5 linked regions of the Homo sapiens genome follow. The protein of the gene in region 1 purifies or fractionates together with the protein of each later gene. This does not show direct contact. Each region holds a gene or a part of one and is shown in the gene's direction. Other genes may lie near its edges. The genes, in order: ZNF816, SMARCAD1, TRIM37, SORL1 and GPALPP1.

Evidence for each region.
Region 2: the proteins of ZNF816 (region 1) and SMARCAD1 purify together in Homo sapiens (affinity purification with mass spectrometry; 2 studies listed by BioGRID and IntAct, with this or other methods). This does not show direct contact.
Region 3: the proteins of ZNF816 (region 1) and TRIM37 purify together in Homo sapiens (affinity purification with mass spectrometry; 2 studies listed by BioGRID and IntAct, with this or other methods). This does not show direct contact.
Region 4: the proteins of ZNF816 (region 1) and SORL1 purify together in Homo sapiens (affinity purification with mass spectrometry; one large-scale study listed by BioGRID and IntAct). This does not show direct contact.
Region 5: the proteins of ZNF816 (region 1) and GPALPP1 purify together in Homo sapiens (affinity purification with mass spectrometry; 2 studies listed by BioGRID and IntAct, with this or other methods). This does not show direct contact.

Annotation. Positions count from the first base shown.
Region 1 is NC_000019.10:52,952,862-52,956,381, reverse strand, and holds part of ZNF816 (zinc finger protein 816), read left to right. Parts: intron 1-277; 5' UTR 278-292; coding exon 293-355; intron 356-3,504; coding exon 3,505-3,520. Other genes in the region: ZNF816-ZNF321P (ZNF816-ZNF321 protein), read left to right, coding at 293-355, 3,505-3,520. UniProt on the Homo sapiens protein: May be involved in transcriptional regulation.
Region 2 is NC_000004.12:94,249,358-94,252,877, forward strand, and holds part of SMARCAD1 (SWI/SNF-related matrix-associated actin-dependent regulator of chromatin subfamily A containing DEAD/H box 1), read left to right. Parts: intron 1-296; coding exon 297-398; intron 399-1,304; exon of another isoform or gene 1,305-1,394; coding exon 1,395-1,476; intron 1,477-3,258; coding exon 3,259-3,520. UniProt on the Homo sapiens protein: DNA helicase that possesses intrinsic ATP-dependent nucleosome-remodeling activity and is both required for DNA repair and heterochromatin organization.
Region 3 is NC_000017.11:59,051,364-59,054,883, reverse strand, and holds part of TRIM37 (E3 ubiquitin-protein ligase TRIM37), read left to right. Parts: intron 1-3,520. UniProt on the Homo sapiens protein: E3 ubiquitin-protein ligase required to prevent centriole reduplication. Probably acts by ubiquitinating positive regulators of centriole reduplication.
Region 4 is NC_000011.10:121,455,300-121,458,819, forward strand, and holds part of SORL1 (sortilin-related receptor preproprotein), read left to right. Parts: intron 1-3,520. UniProt on the Homo sapiens protein: Sorting receptor that directs several proteins to their correct location within the cell. Along with AP-1 complex, involved Golgi apparatus - endosome sorting.
Region 5 is NC_000013.11:45,027,538-45,030,825, forward strand, and holds the end of GPALPP1 (GPALPP motifs-containing protein 1), read left to right. Parts: intron 1-247; coding exon 248-466; 3' UTR 467-2,768; downstream 2,769-3,288.

The DNA of each region.
Region 1 (3,520 bases):
GGAGTTTGGTTAGGGCTAGATCTGTGCCCTGAAGATCTGTGTCCTGCTGCAGCGTGTGTGTGGACTTTTCCAGGAGGGGAGCAAGATCTGAAAACGGGTCAAAATTACATTTGTAGGTCTTCCTGTGGAACTTTCTTATCTCTGCATGGTCTCTGGTGCAGTGGGTAGCAAAGGACCATCTTTCTCTCGGGTGAGGTTTCCCCTGTGTGTGTGTTTTGTCACAGGAAAGGAGTCAATGGTTTCTAAATATTAAATCTCTTGCTTTTTTAACATACAGGATTTCCAAAGACTCATGTTACGTGAGGAAGCCACCAAGAAGAGCAAAGAAAAGGAGCCAGGGATGGCTCTTCCTCAGGTAAGTGATATTCCTTGGTGGATTCTTCTGTCTCTTTCCTTTCTGAAGTGCCAGGTATTGTAGTAGCCAATCTTCTCTGAGTGTGAAGCATTCTACATCACACGTTTGCTCGCACTCACCCGTGTCTTTTCTCAGTCCCTCTCATCTTCACTTAAATTCCATCTCCTATAACCTAGTGACATGAGCTTGGGAAGAGGCTCCACTGGGCATGGTCCTGGGAAGGGCTCACACCAGACATGGATGGAGATGGGGTGTGGGCCCCATGGTGTCAGTGATGTTGGGCAGCAGGGATTGTTCAGGGGCCACATCTGGATGCATGTTTAGCTCTTTGTGGACCAGATCAGAGAAACTGTATATGAAAGTCATACATTAATGTTCACTGGTTAATCTGGTAAATTCTGGAAGAGGAGACAAACTAGGGGAGATATTTTGTGTCTGATTTTGTAATGCATTTGAAGCTACACTAGTGAGTCAATATGTCTCTGACGCCAAACTTTTGTTTTAAGAGACACGGTGTCACTCTGGGGCCCAGTCTGGAGTGCAATGGCACAATTCTAGTTTACAGCAGCCTCGAACTCCTGGGCTTAAGTGGCCCTCCCACCTGAGCTTCCCAAATTGCTGGGATTACAGGTGTGAGACAGCCCAGCAGGACTCTGCACTTTCAATGTCTTAGAATAGAATGGAAAGCGGATATAGATACCAGTAATAGAGTTAGCTTTATTCCATCATTGACTTCAAATTATGAAATCAATATAAATATCTAACTGCAGGGGATTCTTTAAATCATTCTCAGCACTTTGACCCCACAGAGACTTTTTTTTTGTTTTTTGTTTTGTTTTGTTTTTTTTACAGGGACTCTGATGAAGCAAACATTTTAGGTAAAAATGATTATAAGTTTGCTCTGACATAAGAGCACAACTTACGTCGTTAGAGAGGATGGAGCCATTCTTTTTCTACCCATTATTATTAAGTAATTCTTTTATTTTAAACATCACATGATGTATATATGTGTTGTGTAGTAAAAGTCCAAAGAAAAGTGCACTTATGCATCCCCTTTCCTGTCCAGCCTTCCACCCATTCCCATGTCTCAGTGGGGAATCGCTGTTGAGAGTTCTGTGGCAAGTCGGCGCAATCCTTTAGAAATGTATTCATATACCGTTATGAGATTTTAGAAAAAATTATTTGATGAATGGGGTTTTTTTTTTTTTTTTTTGCATGTTTTTTGAGACAGGGCCTCCCCGCCTGGAGTGTAGTGGCACATTGCAACCTCTGGCTCTCAGGTTCAAATGAGTCTTACGCTTCAGCCAACTGAGTAGCTGCATTTACAGATGCGTGCTACACTCCTGGCTAATTGTTGTGTTATTAGTACAGATGGGGTTTCACCATGTTGGCCAGGCTGGTCTCGAACTTTTGGCCTCAAGTGATCCTTCCACGTCGGCCTCCCTAAGTGCTGGGATTTCAGGTGTGAGCCCTGCTCCCGGTCTGATGAATGTTTGTTATGATATTTTATCCTGCAAGTTCTGAAAATTTTCATGTTTCCAAGGTAGAAAACAAGATAGCTCACTCTTTTAAATCCTCCTTGGAGCTTTCTCTGAATGAAGACTCATGAGTCCTTGACAGTTTTGTTTCATTTCTTTTTTGTTGTTGTTGTTTGTTTGTTTTTTTTGAGACGGAGTTTCATTCTTGTGGCCCAGGCTGGAGTGCAGTGGCACGATATCGGCTCACTGCAACTTCCACCTCCCAGGTTCAGTAGCTGGGAATATAGGCATGCGCCACCATTCCCAGCTAACTTTGTATTTTTAGTAGAGACAGAATTTGTCCATGTTCTTCAGGCTGGTGTCAAACTCCTGACTTTAGGTTATCCACCTGCCTGAGCCTCCCAAAGTGCTGGGATTACAGGTGTACCTACTGTGTGCAGCCAATCCCACGGTTTATGTAGAAAATACATTATTTGCAATATATATATACCTTTTTTTTTTTTTTTTTGAGAAAGAGTCTCAGTCTGTTGCTCAGGCAGGATTGCAATGGTGTGACCTTGGCTTACTGCAACCCCTGCTTCCAGAGTTCAGGCGATTTTCCTGTTTCAGCTTCCTGAATAGTTGGGATTACAGGCACCTCCCTACCATGCTCAGCCAATTTTTTTATTTTTAGTAGATACGGAGTTTTGCCATGTTGGAGAGGTTGGTCTCTAACTCCTGACCTTAAGTGATCCACCCACCTTGGTCTCCCAAAGTGATGGGATTACAGGTGTGAGCCACCATGTCTGGACTTATTTTATATATATATATAAAATATATATTATATATATTTAATATCTTTATTTAATAATATATTTATTATACAATATTATATATAATATATGATACAATATTGTAATATATATTATATATAATATTGTATCATATATATTTTATAAATACATATTATATATAATATTGTATTATATATTATATTTTATAAATACATATTATATATAATATTGTATTATATATTATATATTATAAATATATATTATATATAATTAAATATTAAAATATATATTATATATTTATATATAATATATATAAGTATATATTATATATATAAAACATATGTGTATGTGTGTATATATATATTTTTTTTCTTTTTTTTTTTGAGATGGAGTCCTACTCTGCAGCCCAAGCTGGAGTGCAATGGCACGATCTTGGCTCACTGCAACATTCGTCTCTTGTTCTCAAGTTATTCTCGTGCATCAGCCTCCCAGGTAGCTGGGACTAGAGGCGTGTGCCACCACACCTGGTTTTTTTTTTGTATTTTTAGTAGAGACGGGGTTACACCATATTGTCCTGGGCTCGAACTCCTGAGCTCAGGAGATCCACCTGCCTTGGTCTCACAAAGTGCTGGGATTTTAGGCATGAGCCACCATTCCTGGCCTTATATTGTCCATAAAACTGAGACTTCCACAGTGACTTAGGGGATTTTAAAAGCTATCATGAAAAAGTACAATAAAATGCAACTATACTGAAAAATTGTTCAAAAATACCTTAACATAAATTTGTCAGAACACAGTCTTGGATCAAATCAATACTTATTTTCTGTTTTCTCATTTCACGTGAGGGCAATAACTCACTCCTCCATAATGTTTTGTTGAAACGTGTTTTTTATTTTAGGGACGCTTGACTTTCA
Region 2 (3,520 bases), on another chromosome or scaffold:
GTTAATTTGAGGATCATTCTAGTTTTTTAGGAGATTTATCTCATTTTAAGCACTGAGAATAAAGTTTGAGTTACCGGATATGCAATCAGGGTCTTTCAGTGATCTTAAGTCAGCAATATTTTTCATCCTTAAAGACATAAATATGTCAATGTTCACAGAAACAAAAAGAAACAGTTTGGATTCTTCTGACTGATGATGATAATTTTCAGATCAAGTCAAAATACAATGATAATTGCCTTAAGACCATTGTTATTGATATCTCTTAAATTGTTTTCTTTTTTTTTTCTCCCCATTAGGGAGAGGAATCAAATGAGTCTGCAGAATCTAGCAGTAATTGGGAAAAGCAGGAAAGTATTGTACTGAAATTGCAAAAGGAATTTCCCAATTTTGATAAACAGGTGAGTAGTCGTGTATGAAAATTTAATCAGTGTGTACTAAGTGTTTTTATTATAAAATAGTGTTAAGAGTTCAACCACATAAAAGCTTAGGGTGAGTTTTGTATTCTTCTAATTAAATGTTCTCCTTTTATCAATGTTATAAAGTATTTTCATACTGTTTATTTATGTTGTTTATTTACCTTGTTTACTATAGTATCTATACTGTATCCCTAAGTCATTAAAAAATAACCGTAATAAAAATTGTGAACTCATTTATAACATGTAAGTCATCTAGAAAGTCATCTGTAACCCTGCCCCCATCAAGTAACTGCTTAGTTTTTTTCATGTTCTCATTCTTGAAATTTCTTACAAGAATTTAAAAAGTATTCCATTTCAGTGTCTTAATATTTTATAAGCTTTCTACTACTTCCCAGATAGTGAGAATGTTTTCAGAGTCATTAAAAAAAAAGACTCATGCCACGCATCCTGTTGCTAAAAGGCCCTCTGTTTAATCCCATGATCATATATAGAAGCACATATTTGTTTAGCATTTAGAGTACATTTACACTTGCACTGATTTATTTGAGTATATATGTTCAGATAGTACATCTACTAAATTCTGATGAGCTGAATGCAAAATCTTGTTGCAATATTGGTTCTTTACCTTTGTTGAAACTACGTTTTGAAGTTAGCAGTTTGTAAAAGCCTAGCTGCATATTGAAATTTCATTTTTAATTGAGAAAACATTTCTTGATCCTCTAGTGTTCACAGTACTTCATAGTGAGCATTAGAAATGCAAAAAAATGTCAAGTTTTCTTTCCTTTGAAGACTATTGTGTATTTGTGGAGGTGAAATTACACAGAAAGCATTTGTAAAGCAGTGTAAAAACAAGTGCAAAATAATCAGATGTGAATTCTCTGTTTTCAGGTGATTAACTTATTTTTAAAAGAGCATAGACGTTTTCTGCAAGTTGCTAATTTGAGATTTTTAACAAAAAGATAAATGACTTATTTCTAGGAACTTAGAGAAGTACTCAAGGAACATGAATGGATGTACACAGAAGCTTTAGAATCTCTAAAAGTGTTTGCAGAAGACCAAGGTAATTATTCTGGGTCATAGAAAATACATACTTCTCATTATAGTCTGTATTTTAGTATATAAGAAAATGGTATATAAGAAAAGCTATTAGCTGTTAATCAGAGGGTGGGATTGCAAAAGATGTTGAAAGTAATGATGTAAAAACATTCTTTAACAACCAGTTTTTAAATGTTTTGACCTGCCTGTTCTTTATCATAGTGTAAAACAAAACAATAAATATCTTTTTCTATTTGTTCAGTCTTTCTTAATAGTTAAGGCTACTTTTAAATTGCCATGTTTTATTGAGTGTAAAATAACCTTTTTAACAACTGTCAGGATGGATCTTGTGATTGGTGATATCATGTCATTACTGTAATGTAGATGTCTTAGCCTATACTTGCACAGATATCAAAAGCACTAGCATCAAAAACTTAAGGGTATCATAGGCATGAACACATTTTGGAACACTCTTAATTCTAGGAACCAAATGATAGAGGAGAGGTGGTAAGGAAGAGTTGAGTCATACATGTTTAGTAACATACCTAAGGAAGAATCAAGTAGACTAGCTCTTCATAATTGCAAACCCAGCATGGTAGCTTTTGGTGTTTTGGTTTGGGTTTTTTTGTTTGTTTGTTTTTAATAAATTGTTTTAAAAGGCTATACTACCAATACTGTTGATGGCACAGAAAATGATATTCTGTGGCAAAAAGAAAGCCACCAAATATGAGTTTGAAAAATGAGTCAGAAGAGCCATGTTATGAATGTGAAAACATTTGAGGAATACTTTAGCCAATTCATTTTGCTTATTTTTTATAAATGCACAAAAATAAAGGTATGATAATCTGTGTAAGTCTAATAGCTTTCTGAGTAAGTAAAAATTTCTGAATAAAGTATTGTATTATAGATTGGTGCATGTTTTCTCACTGGTACATAAAATAATGGTGTTACCTTCATTCACAGGCATCTTAGAATTCTGTAAACTGATAATCAGTGATAAAGTAGTGGGGCTTTTTGATAATACTGTATTTGAATAATTTTTTTTATTTTTTATTTTTTTTGAGACGGAGTCTTGCTCTGTCGCCCAGGCTGGAGTGCAGTGGCACAGTCTCGGCTAACTGCAACCTCCACCTCCCAGGTTCAAGCGATTCTCCTGCCTCAGCCTTCTGAGTAGCTGGGATTACAGGCATGCACCACCATGCCTGGCTAATTTTTATATTTTTAGTAGAGACAGGGTTTCACCATGTTGGTCAGGCTGGTCTCGAACTCCTGACCTTGTGATCTGCCCGCGTCGGCCTCCCAAAGTGCTGGGATTACAGGCGTGAGCCACCATGCCCAGCCTATTTGAATAATTTTTTAAGTAACGATGCAACTTAGAATATTGAAGATAGTATTGGAAAATTATGGATAGTTGAAACATACACACTTTTTATTAGTAAGCTTTATAGTAGTGTAAGCATCATTCTGCTATATTCTTCAGTGTTGGCATAGTTGAGTGGGGCTGCTAGGAATATCTGAGACATCATACAGATACGCAGCTGCCATTTGTGTTCTCAGGACCTTTGTTAGAAAACAGAGATTTATATTTAATTCATTTTAAAAACAAGTTATCACCTGCTTTTGAAACAATTGTTTAACTTCAAATTCTACTTAAGTATTTTTAAAGTGTATCAAATTTAACAATAAATTGTCGTTGAATTCTTCTGTATTCAATAGGAATAGGTAAATGTTTTAAGTTTTTATTTGAAGTCTATCTTTATATTTATGTATTTCTAATTTAGTTACTGTTTTTGTCTTTTATATACAGATATGCAATATGTATCACAAAGTGAGGTTCCAAATGGAAAAGAAGTTTCTTCAAGAAGTCAAAATTACCCTAAAAATGCAACTAAAACAAAACTAAAACAGAAATTTTCAATGAAAGCACAAAATGGCTTTAACAAGAAACGTAAAAAAAATGTTTTTAATCCAAAGAGAGTTGTTGAAGACTCTGAATATGATTCAGGTTCTGATGTCGGTAGTTCACTAGATGAGGACTATAGTAGTGGTGAAGAAGTGATGGAGGATGG
Region 3 (3,520 bases), on another chromosome or scaffold:
GAGCAGCCTGGCCAATATGGTGAAATCCTATCTCTACTAAAAATACAAAAATTAGCCGGGCTGTGGTGGCACGCGCCTGTAATCCCAGCTACTCAGGAGGCCAAGGCAGGAGAATCGCTTGAATCCGGCAGGTGGAGGTTGCAGTGAACCGAGATTATGCCACTGCACCCCAGCCTGGGCGACATAGCAAGACCCTATCTCAAAAATAATAATAAAGTAAATAAAAACAACAGCCCTGTTTAACGTGGGGTAGTCTTTACAGGTCAGAAGTTTTTGGGCATTGGCTGGGTGCCGTGGCTCACGCCTGTAATCCCAGCACTTTGGGAGGCTGAGGTGGGTGGATCACCTGAGGTCAGGAGTTCAAGATCAGCCTGGGCAACATGGTGAAACCCTGTCTCTACTAAAAATACAAAAATTAGCTGGGCATGGTGGCAGGCACTTGTAATCCCAGCTACTTGGGAAGCTGAGGCAGTTGAATCGCTTGAGTCCGGGAGGCAGATGTTGCAGTGAGCCGAGATTTCACCAGTGCACTCCAGCCTGGGCGACAAGAGTGAAACTCCATCTTAAAAAAACAAAAAACAAACAAAAAAAGGTTTTTGGGTATCATTACATGATGTTATAATTTGATGATCAAAATAAGAACTTGAATATTTAAAAAAGATTAAAATATGTTCTGAACTGAGAAGTTTCAGAGTATTTAACAGTTTAAAAAGTTCTCATCACAACAATTTTAAACATTTTTTTCTTGAGAGTGATTTAATGTACTCCTGAATTTCCCTTATTCGGAGCTCTTTGTTCTTGAGCATACTGGACAGATGAGTTGCTATCATATCAGCATTTACTCTTATGTGTTTTCCGTAGCTTTTCTGGAAGTATAAAGAAGTTTAACAAGGGATATGATTTTCAGTGTAGGGAAAAAGATATGTTTTTGTTATTGTTTTGTTTTGTTTAGAGTCAGTGTCTTGCTATATTGCCCAGTCTAGTCTAGAATTCTCGGGCTCAAGTGATCCTCCTGTCTCAACTTCCCAAGTAGGTAGGATTACAGGTGCATGCCACGGTGCCTGGAATCATGTTTTTTGAGGGGAGGGATTATTTTAGTTTTCTTCGTATAGCTTTTCAGACTTTTGGGGTTTAACTATTCACCAAGAGAAATAATTTATTGCTATTTCATGCTTCAGCCATAGAGAGAATTACAAAATTATTCAAACATCAATTTTACCAACCTATAAAAGACCCATTTTCTTATAGCCTTGATTTCATCCTTATTAGCGTTACTTATTAGTACAGAAACAAATTCCTGTTATGACATCATTTTTTTTAAGCAACATTGAGTCTATACCATATGCCTGACACTGAGTTGCTAATAAGAAAAATATAGACATGGTTTTTGTCCACAGGGAACTCAAGATGAAATTGGCAGATAAAAACAGAATTTACTACTCTCTTATTATAAAATAATGCTATAGTAGCACCGTAAGTAAATTGCTATGAAGTTTGTGGATAGGGGGCTTCACATTATCCTATTAATGAGACATTGCTCAAACTTTAAACCTTTTATTTCAAGATTCTGGTGGAATTTTGTATGTATTTATTAGAAAGTTATTTAAGGCTTTTCTATAACTATGAATGTATGTTTCATTCTTTCATTAAAACAGAAAGTTAAGAAATTTTACCTGCTGCTTGGTTTTGTTTTAATGGCAAAATATTAGAACTAATGTGCAGAGTTAACCAGTGGTTTAAATCATTCAAAGAAAATAATAGTGTTTAGACGGTCTTACTTTAATGTCTTACCAGTGGGTACTTCCTAGACTGTGAATCGTCTCTGCTCAGTTGAGTGAATCATCTCTACTCAGTTCCGTTCAGAACGTAATTTAATCTCTTGATTTGATTTGATTTGATTTGATTTGATTTGATTTGATTTGATTTTTTGAGACAGAGTTTCGCTCTGTTGCCCAGGCTGGAGTGCAGTGGTGCGATCTCGGCTCACTGCCACCTTTGCCTCCCAGATTCAAGCGATTCTCCTGCCTCAGCCTCCTGAGTAGCTGGGATTACAGGCGCCCGCCACCATACCCGGCTAATTTTTGTACTTTTAGTAGAGACGGGGTTTCACCATGTTGGCCACGCTGGTCTCGAACTCCTGACCTTAGGTGATCTGCCCACCTCGGCCTCCCAAAGTGCTAAGATTACAGGTGTGAGCCACTGTGCCCGGCCAATCTCTCTCTTTTTTTAATACTCAAGTTCTCATTTTGATCATCCAGTTATAACATATAATGATGCCCAAAAACTTCTGACCTATAAAGACTATCCCAACATTAAATAGGACTGTTGTTTTATAGTCAGTGTTTATGTTCTGTCCTTTCTTGCATTAGTATTCTTCACTAAAACTAGATATCTACTGCCAGATAACTGTTAAATGGTCAGTAGGTTCTTACAATAAGGTGTAAAATCCTAGAAAAAAATGAACAGCTAACATTGTGTAGCCGGGTAAAAGGGCTGGAAGGAATGAGAGAGATGTAGATGTCCAAATTAGTCTTGCCTTGTGGTTTTTCCTTTCTTCAAAAACACCTTCACACATGCACTGCAATTTTTTCACCTTAAATATAGTCACGTTAGGCTATGTAACAAAGGTAGAGGTTTGTTTGCTTTAGTAATAGTTTTTTTTTTTTTTTTAATTAAAACAACTCTGGATAGATTAAGATTCTGTCATTTATATATTAATACGATTTTATGTAGGTGCAGTACTTTTTTTCCTAACCTAAGCTGAAATAATGCCATATTGTAATAAGGGCAGTTTTGATTGCTATCTTGAAGGGTTCAGGATATAGTTTATTTAGAGCATGTAACTCCTTGGGGGATAGTAAAGCAATCCTGGGTGGTTGAGCCAGGAAGTGATTTTTTTTCTGAGGGGCAGGAAATACGGGAACGTGAGATGGAATAGAGAAATATAAAGAGCAGCACTTAAAACTTTGTATTTTGCTACAAAAAATTAGCCGGGCGTAGTGGCGGGCGCCTGTAGTCCCAGCTACTTGGGAGGCTGAGGCAGGAGAATGGCGTGAACCCGGGAGGTGGAGCTTGCAGTGAGCCGAGATCCCGCCACTGCACTCCAGCCTGGGCGACAGAGCGAGACTCCGTCTCAAAAAAAAAAAAAACTTTGTATTTTGCTGGGGCCTCATTTAGGGAAGAAAGGGATAAGAGTTATCTTCCTCCTTATAGGAGGAAACTGCATAGTATATGGCTCTCTTCTTCCCAACTCATGATCATCATTGTATTTTAGTTACATTATTATAATAAATATGCCTGAGTAGGTTAGTTTGGGAAGCTTAACTACAATGTACAATGTTATTTCTTTAGAAAGGTAGTTTGAGGACAACTGGCTTTTCAGAACCTTGTGTCATAATCTGTGGACTACATCTATAAACAACAAATACTAGCAGCTCTAAGTTTATGTGAATTTTGGCCTTATAATCAAGTTAACCCAAATTGCAGAATTCAGTGCTAGACTGATAATGTTTTACTATTT
Region 4 (3,520 bases), on another chromosome or scaffold:
ATAAGGGGTGGTGGGCTCAGACACTGTCCAGCTTCTTGCCCTCTGACCTTTGAGTGAGGTTAAGAGGACACTGGCAGCACAGGTTAGGGCTGGAAGCAGAAGCTGCCTGAAGGAAGCAGGCCTAGAGGCGATGTTAAGGCCACCACCTTCAGGGAGAAGAGAAGGGAAGGCTTTCTAGGGGAATACTTGCATCTGAGAAAGAGCCCTGTGCTGGAGTCAATGTCGGTCCTTTTTCCTCTGCTTCGCTAATGTCTTGGGTAAACTAGGCTTGGTTATTTTGACCATTTTCCTCCTCAGTTTCTCTAAGGTGGGGAGACCGGCTTCTGCCATGATTACTTAAAGGCACATTTATGATACTGAAATGTGATTGTAGGGGTGAAAATAATTTGCTGGCAGATATCAGGACTTTTCTGCCCATGTTCAAGGCTCACGCCTGTAATCCCAGCACTGTGGGAGGCCGAGGCGGGTGGATCACTTGAGGTCAGGAGTTCGAAACCAGCCTGGTCCACATGGGGAAACCCCGTCTCTACTAAAACTACAAAAATTCACTGGGCGTGGTGGCAGATGCCTGTAGTCCTGGCTACTCAAGAGGCTGAGGCAGGAGAATCGCTTGAACCCCGGAGGCGGAGGTTGCAGTGAGCCGAGATCGCGCCATTGCACTCCAGCCTGGGGGACAGAGTGAGACTCCATCTAAAAAAAAAAAAAAAAAAGGCAAAGTTTAGAAGTTGAGCCCCTTCTTAAAGGCCAGGTCCAAGAAGAGGGATTCCCTAATTCATGCCACACTGAATTTCCTCCTGATTTCTCATAAGCTCTGTCTGTCTGCGCCATCATACCTGCTTTTTCCTCTGCCTGAAATGATCTTCCCCAACTCTTGTCCTTGCCTGGGAAGCTCTTATTCCATTCTTTAACATCCAAGGAATACCTCTTGGTATTCTCAGGCTATGGTGGGAAGAGTTTCTTCTGAGCTTGGAGGCAGCACTTACTGCCTTGTGTTAGAATTGCTCAACTGTCTCATCTTCCTGTTTGCTCCTTGAGGGCATGGATCAAGTTCTCTTGTGTTTCCCTGGCACTTGGGAGGCCCTTAATGAGTATTTGTGGACCAGCCACACACCTGGAAGAAGAGAGGCCCAGAGGGTAGGAAGCACATTCACATTATATAAAATGTATTTGTAAGGAGGAATACAGTGAACCCACACATGGATAGTGAAAATGAGATGGCTCATTCGGTAGTGAGGATGCAAGCGGCATGGCCTACAGATAGTGGAGCCCTGATTTGCCTGTGCTATATGGGAGTTATTTTCAATGAAGAGCTTGGATTCTATTTTACAGAATCCTCCCTTTTAGGGCTATCATTCTGGTTTATGCTAATGGTATTGTTTTGGGGAAAAATCCTTTGGAATAAAGCACAAAGCCTAACAGGATTTACAGGTTTATTTTCCTTCCAACAAGCTCTCTCTTCATAATTCCTACATTTTAGAAGCCAGGGAGTATTCAGTGTCCTGATTTGAGACTGAAAATAAAGTGTCTATTACAGCACAAGGCCCTGGGACAAAAGGCCTCCTTTGGGGGTGGAATACCGTTCAGCTTTAGATCTCTTTTGAGTAGATTCTTCCATGATACACTTGCTTGGGAAAGAATTGGCTGGTTGATTCTGAAGTTAGGATGTTTGACCTGTGTGCTTCCAGAATAAGATGAGAAGGCAAAGAATGTGCTGCTTCAGGTTGGCTTTTATGTAGCTGAAGAGTTGCTCGGGGCCTTGGGTTGGCTCAATAAGGGACGTGACCTTGAAAAGCTCTTCCTGGTTCCACTTGGCGTCTTTTCTTAGGGAGCTCTGTGCCCAGTCTCTGGCCGCTTTTAGTTCATAAATAGCTTGCATGGTTAGAGGCACAGAAGGTGGAGGCTTTGCGAGGGGGAAGGAATGGAGGAAAGGGGTTGGTGAGAAGAGTAAGGAGGCGGAATTTGGAGGGATGAAATAAAAAGCTGTCTGATTAGGTAATGCACGTTTACAAAACAAAATTTGTACAAAAGCGTATGTGGTAACAAATTTCCTTCCCTCTCATGCCCCCTGTTCACCCAGAGCTCCTTTCCGGGTGGCATCCGTTGTTATCAATATTTTTGTATATCTTTCCAGAAACAGTCTATGCATGTACAACATGTATGTACATAAAATTGGAAACTTGAATTATAAATGGCTTCCTGTTACCTGTAGTCCCTGGTATCCTGAATAATGAGATTAACTTTAGCTCTAAATTATATTTGTGATATTATGATGGTGAATTGTTAGAAAATTACCTGAAGTATCATAATATAAAATAGATGATTACTTTTTTTCCAGGCCAGGTGAGAAAAACCTCATTCTCCTTTCACTTCAAGCGTTCTTGCAGAGCAGGAGAGCAGCCTGATGTAGCCCCCTTGTAACTTGGAGAGATGCTGGAGCACAGTTCCCTTGAGATGTGGAGTCCAGGCTTGTAAGAGCATCAGAATACAGTGATCATGGATCTTGGTTTTAATTTGTGTTCTGTCTGAGAATGTTTTCTCTATGTTCTGTAAAATGAAGTTAATGGTATGCTTAATAAATTGCTTTGAGACTTGGGATCCACGAGGCAGATCCTTATAGCAACGAACATCCCAAGGCAAAAGGTGGATGTTGTAGGAACATTTCATTGTCAGATTTTGGTCTGTTCCTCCTTAGAGATGACAGCCATCTTCATAGTGTCATTGTTGAATCCCAGGGCAGAGATAGTTGGAGCCAGCTTTGTTCCACCCACTGTAATGGAGGGACACAGGGGGCAGTCTTATCATAATCTGGAGAGCAGGTAATCCAAAAAATAATCGATTTGCTTTTGCTATGTATTTATGTAGTCTTTTTTTTAAAGCATTCGTTTACCTTCCTAATTAAGTTTTGCTCAGGTGAATATTAAAATGAGTTTGCATTCTTTGATCTATTGATAAGGGAAATGGCTGGCCTAAATGTATTCAGGGAAAGGCAGTTTGGAGTTTAGAATTTGCGACAATAATTCAGATGCAGATAATTGAGAGTTGATAAAAATGTATTAAATGTTTTAAATGAATAAAAATGTATTAAAACCTGGGGGCATTACATTGACCTTTCCTCCATTTATTTGGATTTAAATAAATGTGATGGAAAGTAAAAGAGAGCTCACTGCATTTTTGGTTTGAATATTCAGGGATTAGTATTTCTCCAGAGGTGGTCTGGGCTGTGGGGGTGAGGCATTCTCTGTTGATGAGCATGGGACTTTCCTATGCATTTTCTAGGTATGCCAGACACTGTTGGCAGATGGTATAGTCAGTCTAGCCACGTACATGCAAAAATCAATTTCCCTCAATTTAAAATGAGCCACAGTTAATTTCGACCTAATTTATTGGCTTATCGACCTGTGAACCCTGGGCCTTCGAAGAAGTGGCATGGGCGGCCTTCAAGCGCTGAAGTGGCTGATGAAGCTAAAATCCAGAAAAGGCAGGGTGGGCTGCTGAGCAAGATCAAGATTTGAGTTTCCTC
Region 5 (3,288 bases), on another chromosome or scaffold:
GCTCTTTCTTTCACACCCCGTTCTTGGTTTGTACTCTGATGTTTAGTATTTAAATAACCATAATGCTTTTCATTACATATTTTCTTTATAAATGCTGTCTTGGATTTGGAAAAAAAAAAACTACTGGGGTTTGTAAATAGCCCTCCTTAATGTGCACCATTACTATCTATTCCGTTTCATGGTCATATTCTGTCAATAATCTATATACAAACTATAGTTTTTATTTCTGCTCTCCTGCTCTCTCCAGGAATCAAAAAGATCAGAATCTCTTATGGACATACATCATAAAAAGTTAAAGAGTAAGGCTGCTGAAGACAAAAATAAGCCTCAAGAGAGAATACCATTTGACCGTGATAAAGATCTCAAGGTTAATCGGTTTGATGAAGCTCAGAAAAAAGCCCTAATAAAAAAATCTAGAGAACTAAACACCAGATTTTCACACGGCAAAGGCAATATGTTTTTATAAGTAAGTATATTTCAGTGAGGTATATTTTAATACTGATCAATGTGAACTTTTCTAAATACTCTATTGTCTTTAATAATTGTGCTGAAATCTATTTCCTTTTATAATAGATTAAAAATTTTATATTTTTATAAGTAAACAGTGATTTTTGAAAAGTCAGCCTTGTGGGATGAAAAATATGTCTTACTGGAAAAATCCCTCATAATAACCTAATAGGGCATTGCTATTAAAAATGCTAAAATAAAAATTCAGCTTATGAGAAATGGCAAAGGAAGGTGTGGTTTGATACTTGAGTAAATATGCATGCTTTATTAAAGATGAAGAAAGGCTTGCTGGTTGTTTGTATGTTAAACAAAATCCCAACTAGGAAATGTTTGTTGCTTAGAAAGGTCCCCTATAAGTTAAGGTTCAAAACTATTCCAATATTCATCCATAGCCCAATCTGACAAGGGTTCAGAATGGTGATTAAGAAATTACATAAAGCTGGGTGCAGTGGCTCACGCCTGTAATCCCAACACTTTGGGAGGCCAATGTGAGAGGATCGCTTGAGCCCAGTAGTTTGAGACCAGCCTGCTTAAGATGGTGAGACCCCGTATCTACAAAAAACTAACCAGGTGCAGTGGAGCACACCTATAGTCCCAGCTACTCAGCAGGCTGAGGTGGGAGGATCCCTTGAGCCCAGGAATTCAAGGCAGCAGTGAGCTGTGATTGTGCCATTGCACTCCAGTCTGGGCAACAAAGTGAGACCTCGTCTCTTTAGAAAAAAAAAAAGAGGCCAGTGGCTCACACCTGTAATCCCAGCACTTTGGGAGGGTGAGGCGGGTGGATCACCTGAGGTCAGGAGTTCGAGACCAGCCTGAACAACATGGTGAAACCCCATCTCTATTAAAAATATATATATATAAAAATTAGCCAGGTGTGGTGGCACGTGCCTGTAATCTCAGCTACTTGGGAGCCTGAGGCAGGAGAATTGCTTGAACCCGGGAGGTGGAGGTTACAGTGAGCCGAGATCGTGCCACTGCACTCTAGCCTAGGTGACAAGATCGAGAGACTCTGTCTCAAAAAAGAAAGAAAAAGAGAAGAAAAGAAATTACATAAAAGCTGAGGTTGCTTCTTAATATCTTTATGATTTTTAATTGTATTAAACCTATATCAATATTCAAATGTGATTTTTGAGGAAAATATGTTAAATTTAGAAATATTTTCCAACTTACTGAGTTTTCTTATTCTTACCTCAGGGGGATTTCCCTGTGCAATGAAGAAAAGTTGAAGAATACTCTTTGTCCATCTTTATTTCTTTGTTTTTGGCTTCTTAAGATTAGAGATTACTTTAATCTTAAAAAACATACAAATTTACCTTGTTCTGTATGTCCTTTTAAGGTCATGTGGAAACATAAAACGAATGTTTTTTATGTAGAACAGAATATTCTATGTGCCTTTAGCTTCTGTGGAAGTATGGGGAATTATGGGCTTTTCTTCAAATAATTATTTTAAGAGGCTTCCATTCCCCCTGATTTTTGTGGTGTCTCACAAGTACCCTCTAAGGTCTGGTCAGGACTGACCACCAAATCTCTACCACAGCCTGGACCTCCTTGTGAAATATACCTAACCTGCCCTAGAGTCAGTGTGTCAAGTCCTTACTGTAAATCCATGACTTTGAAATTTGTTGTTTTTTCCCTTTAAACTGCAGCCAGTGAATACAAATTTACTTGAAAATAGAGGGTATGGGGTTTTGCCTGTTTTGTAATCAGTTTGCTTGTTTTAGCACTCAGGGCTTTTTATTTGTTATTTAATTTTTTAATTGTTTTTAAGTCAGAAAGATCTCTGGGTTATCTCATGTGCTAAGGAAAAACTATTTTGCTTTTTCCAACTTTAATAGTTAGTATTTCTAGGGGAGGCAATCAAGATAAGATATGCCATTAACTGTTAGCATTGTGAAATCTGTAAGACTCAATCTCTGATCTCAACCAAAGCTTTCTGAGTCCTGGAACTTTGCTTTGGGACAACTTTACTTTACCCATTTATATGCTGTACTTAACAGTTTGTAGCTAATTTATGGGGTCATATCTTTTTTTTAGCTAATTTACGGGGGTCATATCAGTCATGAATAGCCTTTTTTAAAAATTTAATAATCCCTGAATACAAAAATGGAAATGGAAAATTTATAATCATAACCCCCCTAATTGGGAGTATTATAAGTTTGTAATGCTTTAAGCACTGCCTCTTAAGATGATAAATTTATAAGATGAGAAATTCTATTTAAACTATTAAACTATTGTTAAATAAATGCCAATTCTATAAGTTATATTTTCTTGCAGATTAATCCCAATTGTTCCACTAGTATTCTAGTTTTGATGAGACACAAATTTTTGTTGTTGTTTATTTTTGTTTTTTTGAGAGATGGAGTCTTGCTCTGTCACCCAGGCTGGAGTAGAGTGGCGTGATCTCAGCTTACTGCAACCTCCGCCTCCTGGGTTCAAGCGATTCTCCTGCCTCAGTGTCCCAAGTAGCTGGGACTACAGGCGTGCACCACCATGCTCAGCTAATTTTTGTATTTTTTAGTAGAGATGGGGTTTCACTATATATTGTTCCAGGCTGGTCTCGAACTCCAGACCTCAGGTGATCTACCTGCCTCGGCCTCCCAAAATGCTGGGATTACAGGCATCAGCCACCATGCCTGGCCAAGACACAAATTTTTAATGGAAAAATATTCTGATTCCCAGTTCATGTAAGCTTTATGAAAATTGAGTATATTGTTTATATGATGGTACAAATTATTCTTCCTCTAATAATAGCAGTACAGTATATTTTTTCCATAGCATCAG